Linked DNA regions of Homo sapiens: region 1 is linked to region 2. The links come from fine-mapping of genetic effects on gene expression. A gene starts in region 2. The other region holds a variant in brackets. All regions are shown on one strand. Distances are between the middles of the regions.

Region 1 (5,383 bases), 58 kb before region 2:
GATTGAAGCCAGTTGGTGTTTCTAAAATAAGGAATTTGTTTAGACATAATTATGCATCTTGTCAAATGCTTTAAGTGAGTTGGAGACACCCCAGAATAGAAGAAATTATGTGACATTTTGTTGCCGAATTGTCTTTTACTGGTCAAGTAGTACTAGTGAAAGCAGAAGAAATTGCCAAATCTCTTTGTGGGAGATAGAATAACGCCCCTTCCTGCCTGCCACCCCAAAATGCTCATGTCCTAATCCTCTGAATCATGAAACTGTTAATTCACATTGCAGATATGATTAAGGGTATAGAACTTGAGAGAGGGAGACTATCTTGGGTTATCCAGATGTGCACAGTTTAACCACACAAGTGTTTAAAAGTGGAGAACCTTTCCCAGCTGTGGTCAGAGAGTGATGTTACTATGGAATAAGAGTGGGAGAGAGACTTCACTTGCTGACTTTGAAGATGGAGGAAGGGAGCCATGAGCCAAGGAATTTGAGTGTCATCTAGAAGTTAGAAAAGGCAAGGAAATATCTTCTTCTTTAAAGACTCCAGAATGGCATGCAGCTCTGCTAACACATTGGTTATAGCTGAATGAGACCTGAGTCAAACTTCTAACCTACTATAAAATAATGGATTCGTATTGTTTTAAGCCACTAACTTTGTGGTAGAAATCTAATTCACTGTATTTCAGATATTCCTTTTCATCTTTATTGGGAATGTGGTCATTATTTATGTTCTGCACTTGGAAGGACTTGGATAGCGAAGAAAAAAACGGCTCATCCAAATAAATCTAAGGATCTTTGGGCAACATGAGTGTCTAAATGCTCTAAGGGTTATTTGTTTTGGAATAATCTAGAGTTGGAATGACTGACACCTCTTCTATGAAATCTTAGAACTCTGGCAATTCAGCAATTAATTTTTTTTTGCATCTGCTCGTGACCTTTCTAAAATGCTCGCTGGACAGCACTCCTCATCTTAAACTCCTTCAGTTGCTCTACTTTTCCTTCAATAAAATCCAAGCTGCTTGGCATGCTCCACAAGGCCCTTCAAGAAATAGCCTCTGCCTACTCTTTCAACTTTCCTTTTTACCACTTCTTAGGCTCTAGACATATCATTGTTTGCCATTCTCTGAAAGCATCACACTCTTTCTGACCTTCATACCATTGTGCAGGCTGCTCAAGCCTCCTTTTTCCCTTGGCTTGCTATTTGTTCATGACTCGGCTCAGGGAGTATTTTCTGCATGGAGACTTTCTTGTTGCTCTCCAGCCCCTCACACCCTTCGATCTTTTGTATTACCATATAACACTCACCTTAACCTCCATATCAGCACTTATAATTCTGTATTATGATGCATTACTTGTCTATATTTTATATGCTCCTTATAAATCAAAAGAACACCTTTCATTTCTAACTTTAATGACTACTACTGCACCTGGCATTTGGGAGGTACTCAGTAAGTACTTGATGAATGAAAGAATGCATCATGTACTCATTGTCTTTGAAAACTCTGGAGCCTCAATTAGGAATCAAAAGTTAGGTTCAGGTATTTAGAAGTTACAGGTTTTTGTGTGTGTGTGTGTGTCATTTTAAAGGTTGCCCAAGAGTTCCTGATTCTTCTTTCCTTTTTTTTTTTTTTTCAAAATAATGAGATATTTCTCCTACTCTGACCAATGCAGGACACACAGGGAAAAGAAGCAAATTTTGGAGCAAGAAGTTTTAACCTGGAACCCAAGTATTCCCTAGGAATTCCATGAATGGGCTTAGGGGGATCCTGTGGACCACCTGAAATATATACATTACTTGTCTACATGTTTGTTTCTGGGACAGACTCAGGAGGTTTCATCATATCAACACACAAATGTGGTCCAGAAATGCTGTTCTAATAAAGGACAGTAGAATTGTGGAGAAATACACTCAAACAAGACTTTCCTTGACTTTAGGTATCTCTAATTGAATTTCAAGCTTCACTCTTTTGGGAGATTCTTGTCACCACACCACATACAAAGGAAGAAATTATTTCTTTTCTTGCTTAATAGGCAGTTTGAGGAGGTAACCTCTCTGGGATGGTGGTGCAGTGGAGGGTGACATTGTGGCACACTTATGATAAACAAATAAGGATATCAGGATCAGAGTGGCCTAAGCACACTAATTTACGTGAGTTTTATATTTTCTTAAGACTGACAGGAAACTTTGAAGTGTCACCTTGCTTCATCACCTGCTTTGAAAAAATATTTTCAGATAAACTATATAAATTGGACTAAACTACATCCCATTCGTAAGTATACCTTTCCCATCCCTGAGAAGGTGGTTGCCGAACCTTATCCATGGCATTCCACACTTAAAAGGCCACTTGAAAAACAAAAAGCCAGAAGCCAGTTGCTTGGAAAATATTCTGTGCTTTCTCTTTTCCATCAAGTGTAATGAAGTGGAGAGAGATAAACATATGACCATGGATTTAAATCCTTTGGTTAAATGGTGTGCGGTCTTCCGAAGCAGGGCTCATGGCGTGTTCTCTAGACAGGCAGTATGCCTGCGTGCAGAAGCTCTTCTGC[A/G]AATAAACCATGAAGTTGCAAACTTAGGCACAGCATTTGAATAAGAGAAAGTAGAAAAAAAATCCCTTCCTTAAGGTCAACATCTATGTCTTTGTGAACTCATTTGGGGGACCTGAAGACACTTCCTTTGATAATTGGGAAATTTTTCCTTGGAGAAGAACAATTTTCTGACTGCGACATCCTAAATATATCCATGATTATCGAAACTATGACGCCAGGGCAGAGAGAAGCTGGCCACTCTGCCTCAATTAATATCTAACTGCACTTAATGCTGCATTAGTGATTTGGGGGTTTATGAGAATCAGGATGAAAGAATCAATCCTGCCATTTGAATCCACTGCATTCATTTGTTCATTGAAATGTCAGTTATTTAGAGGATCTACTGTGAAGCAAGCATTTTACTAAGTTCTGAGATTCTCCTAGATAGGTTGGTTGCAAGGGGCCAGGTATTTAGTTTTTTAGTAGAAAATGCCAGTGATTGCATCTTAGCTTTGTTTATTCTGCTGAATATTAATTAATCCATCTGTATTCGTTAGATATGTATTACTCCTACTTCTACCATGGGCAGAGCTATGAGCAAGGTGTGTCAGAGAAATAGAGATGACAGAGCACCAGTACCTTAATGATTTTACTATATACTTTTAAGTTACCCCTAAGCTCCCTTTTAGAAACAAGGAAGATATACACTATGAATAGAAGTGTTTTACTCTCCCCTACTACCTCTTTCCCTCTGGAGGAAGAGTTTTAGTATTAGAGTTCTGTTTACAGAGCCTGCTTAAGAGTCCAGGAAGGGCTGGGTTTGGTGGCTCATGCCTGTAATCCCAGCACTTTGGGAGGCCAAGGCGGGCGGATCATGAGGTCAGGAGATTGAGACCATCCTGGCCAACATGGTGAAACCCTGTCTCTACGAAAATGCAAAAAATTAGCCAGGTGTGGTGGCACGTGCCTGTAGTCCCAGCTACTTGGGAGGCTGAGGCAGGGGAATCGTTTGAACCCAGGAGGCAGAGGTTGTAGTGAGCTGAGATCATGCCATTGCACTCCAGTCTGGTGATAGAGTGAGACTCCATCTGAAAAAAAAAAAAAAAAAAAAGAGTACAGGAAACCTTTTGGCTGTAAGAGGTTGGTACTACTCTCTTGCATCAATTAGGGCTGGCTTTGCTTAAATTCAGGTTCACCAAAAGTTTTCAGTCTTCATAAAATCATGTAAATTAACAAATAGAAAATAACCTTAGGCCAGGTGCAATGGCTCATGTCTGTAATTCCCGTGCTTTGGGATGCCAAGGCAGGAAGATTGCCAGGAGTTCGAGACAAGCCTGGACAACATAGCAAGATCCTGTCTCTCTCTCTAAAAAAAAAAATAGCCAAACATGATGGCACACATCTTTAGTTCTAGCTACTCAGGAGGCTGGTGTGGGAGGATCACTTGAGCCCAGGAGTTTGAGGCTACAGTGAGCTATGGCTGTGCCACTGAACTCTAGCTTGGGCAGCAGAAAGAGATTCTATCTCTAAATAGATTTTGTTTTGGTAATTAAAAGAAAGAAATGAATCTTAGGAAGTTATTTTCCCTCTTCTTTTCTCTTCATAGCAGCATGTTTCATCTAGTCTATGGAATAGAACTCAATTTATTCTATGATTTTTGCTCAAATTTTACAGTCTGAATTACCCATGTATTTCTGAAGTTCACCCTCTTTCTACCTGCTAGCATCCTTTACTGCTTGTGACAAATGAGCTCACACCAATTGTCTTGTAGTTTCTTGGAGCTGGGACTTTTACCTTCCTTTGAATTATGTTGATGTCTGTATAACCTTTGTGTTCCTTCTCTTCAAAAATCCTATAAAATTTGCCTTTTGTTCTGCCATTGGCTAATATTGGTTCTGACTTGGAGTCACCCTAACTTTAACAGGACAAATGATTGCCCTTCTACCCATTACTGTAGTTAACATAACACATACATGATTGATTATACATGAAAGTTGTCTCTTCTCAAGTTCTTCTTTCCTCCTTTTGCACCACCCCTGTTCTTAAGTAAATCCTCATGACTAAAAACAAATCCTAACAATTTTTAGTGACTATTTCTGACTTCAGAAGATCTCTAAAGCTAAGAACATCGTTGAATTGGGCATTTTCTATTTAACTAGAGAATAAAGAATCTTGGGAGGTATAAATAGTGCTTTTTGATGTTGAGTTTGAGGAATTTTCCCTAGCCAAGAACAGCCTTACTTAAAATTCCTTGTAATTGTGACTTCATTAATAAATCAGGAAAATAAAGGAAGATATGTATAAATCTTTTTGGTGGTTTCTGTACACATTCGCTATGTTTATTTGCTATGCATTTAGAAGATAGGCTACACCGATTGATTTAAACCTTTATTTCTGTATATAATAGAGGAAAAAGATTAGTTAGAGAAGATAAAGGCTAATAAATCCCTACTAATAGATTTCAGTGGCAGAAGTTTGCATCATAACTCTAGGTAAGGAATAAGGTGGTACTTTTCTGTGCTAGGCTAGTGTGTTGTGCCTGCATTTAGTGTGGAATTTATCACTCTCCATTATTATTATTCCTATTATTGTTTGACTAACTATAAGCTCCTTTTTATTTTATTTTATTTTATTATTATTATACTTTAAGTTTTAGGGTACATGTGCACAACGTGCAGATTTGTTACATATGTATACATGTGCCATGTTGGTGTGCTGCACCCATTAACATGTCATTTAGCATTAGGTATATCTCCTAATGCTATCCCTCCCCCCTCCCCCCACCCCACAACAGTCCCCAGAGTGTGATGTTCCCCTTCCTGTGTCCATGTGTTCTCATTGTTCAATTCCCACCTATGAGTGA
Region 2 (5,383 bases):
TGTAACAAGTTTAACATTCATGGTTCTTTATTTTTCAAAAATAATTTAGATTTCATTCTCCTTTTTTATTTTAAGAAGCCCAACAGAATTACCATATGACTATAATCTCATATCCTAGATTCAAAAACCAGGAGACCAAACACAAACAATGCCTCAGAGGAGAAAAGTTGTGTCTTAAGAATCAAAGTATTCTTGGGTATCGTAAGTGATTGCTGACGTAGAGCAAAGGGTTAATGAGAATGGGCTGGCATATTAAATCAGAATGCACGTTGAAAGCAAATTGCCAGCCTAAAGGAAAATATACGTATCATTGTCTCTGGTGAGGGAGGGGGACAAATAACTACTAAGATGTCCATACATGCCATACTCAGAAGTCATCCTTGATATCTTTTTTTCCAGACAGATTGCAAACACAAGTCTTTCTCCCATATGGGGGTGTGTGTGCAGGGGGTGTGGCCTGAAAATGCAGCATTGATTCTGGGAAAACTGAAACCTGGGAAGCCTGGGTATAATAGTTCAAGAAAACAGAAATGTTTTTCTTTGGCTGTTGTTCCTGAAGTTACTTAAATGAGACTCATTGGCTATTGATCTGTATATATTGAGATTACAATAAAACATAATGGACCAGTTTCTCTCTCCCCTGGGTCACAGGATTGGCCTTTTATCTCTTGAGAGTAATAAATCATGGTCTTGGATTTAAGAAAATATTCTGGGATCTGGTTGGCAGCTGATTTATTTTTAAGACAGTGATGTCAGGAAAAAAAAAAAGCATAACCCAGAATGTGACTGTAGTGGGAGAATAGCGATTGCTGTTTAAAATATTAAGTAAGGCTTCCCTGCTTTCAGAACCCATCATCCCACAGCAAGCTGAGTTGAAGCCCCTTACCAATATATTCACATCTTTCTTTACAATGGCACTTACATTCTTTTGATTTCTTTTTATCTGTGACAGATCCTAGCTTCTCTATTTATCTCTTGAATCTAATTTGCTCTATGACATCAAGCTTTAATTTTATCATTATTATTTTGCTTCATTTTAAGCACCCATGGTGTGCCAGGCATTGGATAAAATAGAAAAGATACAATCCCTGCTGTCGCTGGGCTCACACATTTAAAGAGATTTGACAGGCAAAATATCCTGTAATTGGCAATAGGTAGTCCTCATGCTTCCCCCCGCCCCTTCTCCCTTTTGAAGCAACTTCATCTCTCTGAACAAGCTTAAGAAGTTCCCTAGATCAAAGGTGTCAAAAACCAGAAGGGTTTGGAACAAGTGTCAGAGAGTAAGCAAACGACTTTCTGAGCTGTGACTCTGCTCCTCGACTGCCCACGTGCTCTCCGCTGTCTGCACTCCTGCCTCACCTGGGCTGACTCGGACTCTCCACCTCCTTTGCTGCTTCCGGCATGAGCTACCCAGGAGCCTAAGGCGCTCCTTCCCGCAACTCCGGTCCCCGCGCCCCGGGACTGCAAATCCTTTAAACAGAGGCCCCAGAGCTAGGGGTTTTCCCAGGCTCTGGTGGGCGTGGGCTGACAGTCGCTGGGAGCCCCGCAACAGGGGGGATGTCCAGGCAGGTATGCACCCAGCTCCCGGCGTTTCCCGGAGTCACCACAATGTTTCCCTTTCTCTCTCCCCCACGTATGCTGCTAGGGGTACTCCCCAGATAGGATTTTCTTTGTCTTTTCTCCTAGTAACACCGAAGCCCTCTCGTGCCCGGGGACTGCAGAGGAACGCCAGACCATCCGGACCTTGCGGGATGGCTCGGTGTGTGTGTTTTACTGTGTGTCGGAGTGTCGCGCATGTGTGCGTGTTGGGGCGCGTTATCAACAGGGGCCTAGGGCACCCCCACTCTTTCTTGCTCTCTTCCCCCATCACTTCATGGACCTCCGAGGCGCAAAGCGCTCGACCCTCTCCTGGGCTCAGTGGCTTGGGTACTCCGGGCTGAGCTCAGCTGGGGAGTCCCCTTACCCAGCCCGCACCGGCACCCCGAAGCTTCAAAGTTGCGGCAAACAGTTGCGGGGAGCAGAGGAACTGAGGTCCAGGCCAGCGCGCCCGCGGTCGCTCGCCTTGGGGAGCAGGCTGAGCCGAGGGTCGTGCGGGTGCGCGGCAGAGGCGGTAGGAGGCGGAGGAGAGGGGGGAGAAAGAGGGGGCGGTGGGGAACAGCTGCCGGGGTAGGCGAGGCGCAAGGTGGCTCCCCGCGGCCCCGCGCCCCGCGGCTCTCGGACGCACCAGGCAGCCAATGGCTGCGCAGAGGTGTACAGCAGATGGCGTCTGACTGCGCCGTTCCTTCCTCCTCCTCCTCCTCCTCCTTCTCTTCCTCCTCCTCCTTCTCTTCCTCCTCCTCCTCCTTCAGTGCTGAGGAGCCAGAGTCGCCGCCGGGTTGCCAGACGCTGGAATGGGTGGTCTTCCGACACACACCACCATCTTTCTTGCGCTCGGGAAGCTCGGGGCTCAGCGGCTCCCAGAGGTTACGGCGGCGGCTCTGGCGAGACGGGTGAGTGCAAGCACGCGGAGCCCCGAGTCGGGGATGCCGGGCCCCCTGGCCGGCCGACTGGGGCGCGGGGTGGCAGCGCCGGGGAAGGGGGCGCGCTGCCGGCGCAGACTTTGCTCTTTCCTCGCCGGACAGCCATCGTCGCCCCTTCTCCCAGCCAGACGCGGGAACTTGGAAGCGGATCTTCTCGGACGCCTCTGGCTTGGGGCTGCGGGAAGCGTGGGCTGCCCGGGGCGCAGTGTGCGGAGACCCTCTAGGCGGGCGGGGACGCCCCACGCGGCGACCTGAGCACCGACCTCATGCAACGGGACCGAACCTTGGGACCCGGGCAGCAGGAGCTCTGTTCCCTTCACCTCCAGCTTGGTTTGAGGGATACTGATGAAGGAAACCGGGGGTTTCCCGTCCTGCGCGGAGAGCCTCGGCGCCCAAAATCGAAAGGCCGGGAGTTGTTCTGCAGGCTTTGCAAACAGGTTGACTGAGGGTTTCCTTTCCCGTAGCGCTGACTGCGAAATCTGTGCATAGGCGTTCAGTGCCAGTGGAGGATAGCTGAGCAAGCCAAGAAGTTTTGCAGCTTCCTCTGATTTATCGGTGGAGTGTCAGGAGGCTGTAGCAACAGTTTACATTTCCCCTGTCCCTGCGAGTGGCTAGGGGCAAGCTGGGCTCGGACGTGATATCCTGCTGTTTGTGGAGAGGAAACTGGGAACGGGGCTTGAGAGTGAGGGGCAGGGAGGGGGGGACAGGCATATTTTCTACTGCATCGCCCATCTGCACCTGTCCCCTTTGCTGTCTTACATGTCCCATAGTATTAAAGTTATTTGAATAAGCAAATGAACCCCGCTCTTTGGTGACCGCGTATTTTGAAGTTGGAAAACTTTGCAGGGGACGAGGGAATGTTGAGGAGGGGGCGTTAAGCTCTCTCACTCTATCCCTTTTTAAAGACAAGAAAAAAACTTTCGTTGGCGAAGGTGGTACTTTTTTCTTTTGGAATGTCTGAGCTCAGAGCTTCCCATAAGAGGTATTGCGATTCAATACTGTACAGTCAAGGTGAAGTTCCACTAAGATTATGGGACCGTGGCATATTCTACGGAAGATACCAGGGTTCCTTGGCGCTCTGTTCATTGCCAGGGTGGTCTGCTGAAAGCCGGCAGTTTCCCACCCTCAGACTCCTTGGAGCTCTTTAAATGACGGTCTGCCTGGTGTTTCTCAGCGGTACACCTGTGAGTGCTCTGTTATCATGGAAATGGTAACCCATGCAGGTAGGGCTCATGCCAACCAGACTGTGGTGGGGTGTGTGTGTGTTTGTGTGTGTGTGTATACATGCGCGTGCGTGTGAACGTGTGTGTTTGGAGTTTCCTTTTGACAGGTAATCTTTGGATGTCAAAGGGATACAGTTATTTGTCTGGCAGTGTCAGGGCAATCTGAGTTTCTCGAGTAACTAGGAGGAGGTAATCTCCAGGGAAGCCTTTTTGTGCTCTTGACTGTCTACTCAGCAGTTGGTGAAGGCTTCCTGAAAGCCACTTAGGGTGTTACTAACCAAATCAAGAAGTCTTACTCAGTGGTGAGTGAAAGCTCGTGTCTTTGTGGGTTAAAAGCTGTTTATAAAGTTTCTGTCTTGAGGCTTCACTTTGACAGACTGCTGTTTTTAAACCTTAGTGCCATTAATAATAGGAGTCTTCTTTTGAAAAGTAATGTGGCCAGTTCTCTGTTTTCTGAGGGTAGTTGATCTAATCTGGTAGATTCCCTGGAATTGTTTTATTTTCTATCCCTGGGAAGTGTGTGTGTGTGTGTGTGTGTGTTGTGTGTATTTGTGTGTGTGTGTTTTCTTCATCTACCTGCTGAGAGTTGAGGGTTAGAAACTCTTTTTCATGCAAATTTAAGTGAAAAAAATTATGAAGAAAATTCTTCTGACACTGTAACAATATACACAGATACTTCTGAAAAAATTGTAGGTGTCATTGTTGACTTTAAAAACATCGGATAGTCTCGTATAAATCAGCACAGACAGATCCAGCAGCCCTGAACACCTACAAACCATTCAGGGTTTTGGATATTCTAGATTAATCTGTGATAAGGGCTTGGAGATACGTGGTCCAGGAAAGGGCTGTCTACTGTTGGTGGACTTTGATAGTCTGTTTTGAGGGTTCATAATACGATGAGCTCACTTTATGTCAACCTTAATATTTAAATCAATACTTGAGAAATGATCTTACAATATTTCTTAATCTTCTGGCCCATTGTTTTCCATCAAAGTTGTTGATTGTTAGAGAGTTGAAAGGCTAAGAAAGAGGAACACTGTTAGACAGGTAGAAAATAATTACCGATCATATAAACAATGTAAATACAGACTCTACTGTTTGAAGACTGACATTAACAAATTGGTAACGAGAGGTACCTTTCTGTTCTCTGCTGAGTGTGCCTTTTGAGAGAAAGTAGGGAAGGAATGAAAGGAAAATGGTACTAAATTGTACTTCATCAGAAGGGCTATGAAGGACCTTGTCTGCTTGCTACAGATCCTATTTCTGAAGGAATAACTCTTTTGTTAATATCAGCAAAAAGAATGTTGTCCTTAAATGATAGACCGAAAAAGCAGAATAAAAAGATAGGCTCTAAGTTAAAGGAGGGAGAATGTCCAAACAAGAACAATTCTAAAGCATGTCAACTCACTTTAATTATACTTCACAAATTGAAACTGGAGTTGTATGATTCCTTTAAAGAAAAAAAGTCTTGCCAAAACTTCAATTCTGCTGTTCTGCACACTTTACAAAGATTAGGCATTAAAGTAATAACATTATGTCAAAAGTTTGAATAGAATGATGAAGAATATTTGACTGGTCTTATTTAGTTAACTGTGAAAATGACAAATGATACAATATATTAAATACATGATTAAGACAAAC

Alleles and levels. Alleles are on the strand shown, and positions count from the first base shown. SD is a standard deviation of normalised expression in the study named.
As copies of A replace G in region 1, the expression in coronary artery of the gene that starts at base 2,347 in region 2 goes down (large effect, 0.78 SD a copy in GTEx).

Evidence for each region. PIP is the estimated chance that this variant, and not a neighbour inherited with it, causes the effect.
Region 1: its variant is the best candidate, but not a certain one, in a credible set for the expression of THSD7B in coronary artery (GTEx, PIP 0.73).

The regions. Positions count from the first base shown.
Region 1 is chr2:136,705,511-136,710,893 of GRCh38, forward strand. No RefSeq gene overlaps it. Among named protein-coding and RNA genes, the nearest start is that of THSD7B, 57 kb to the right of the region's middle. The variant A/G (reference allele first, on the strand shown) is at 2,542.
Region 2 is chr2:136,763,199-136,768,581 of GRCh38, forward strand. THSD7B (thrombospondin type 1 domain containing 7B) reads left to right here and starts at 2,347. Exons shown (of 28, transcript NM_001316349.2): 1 at 2,347-2,489. RefSeq lists an enhancer at 2,329-2,830.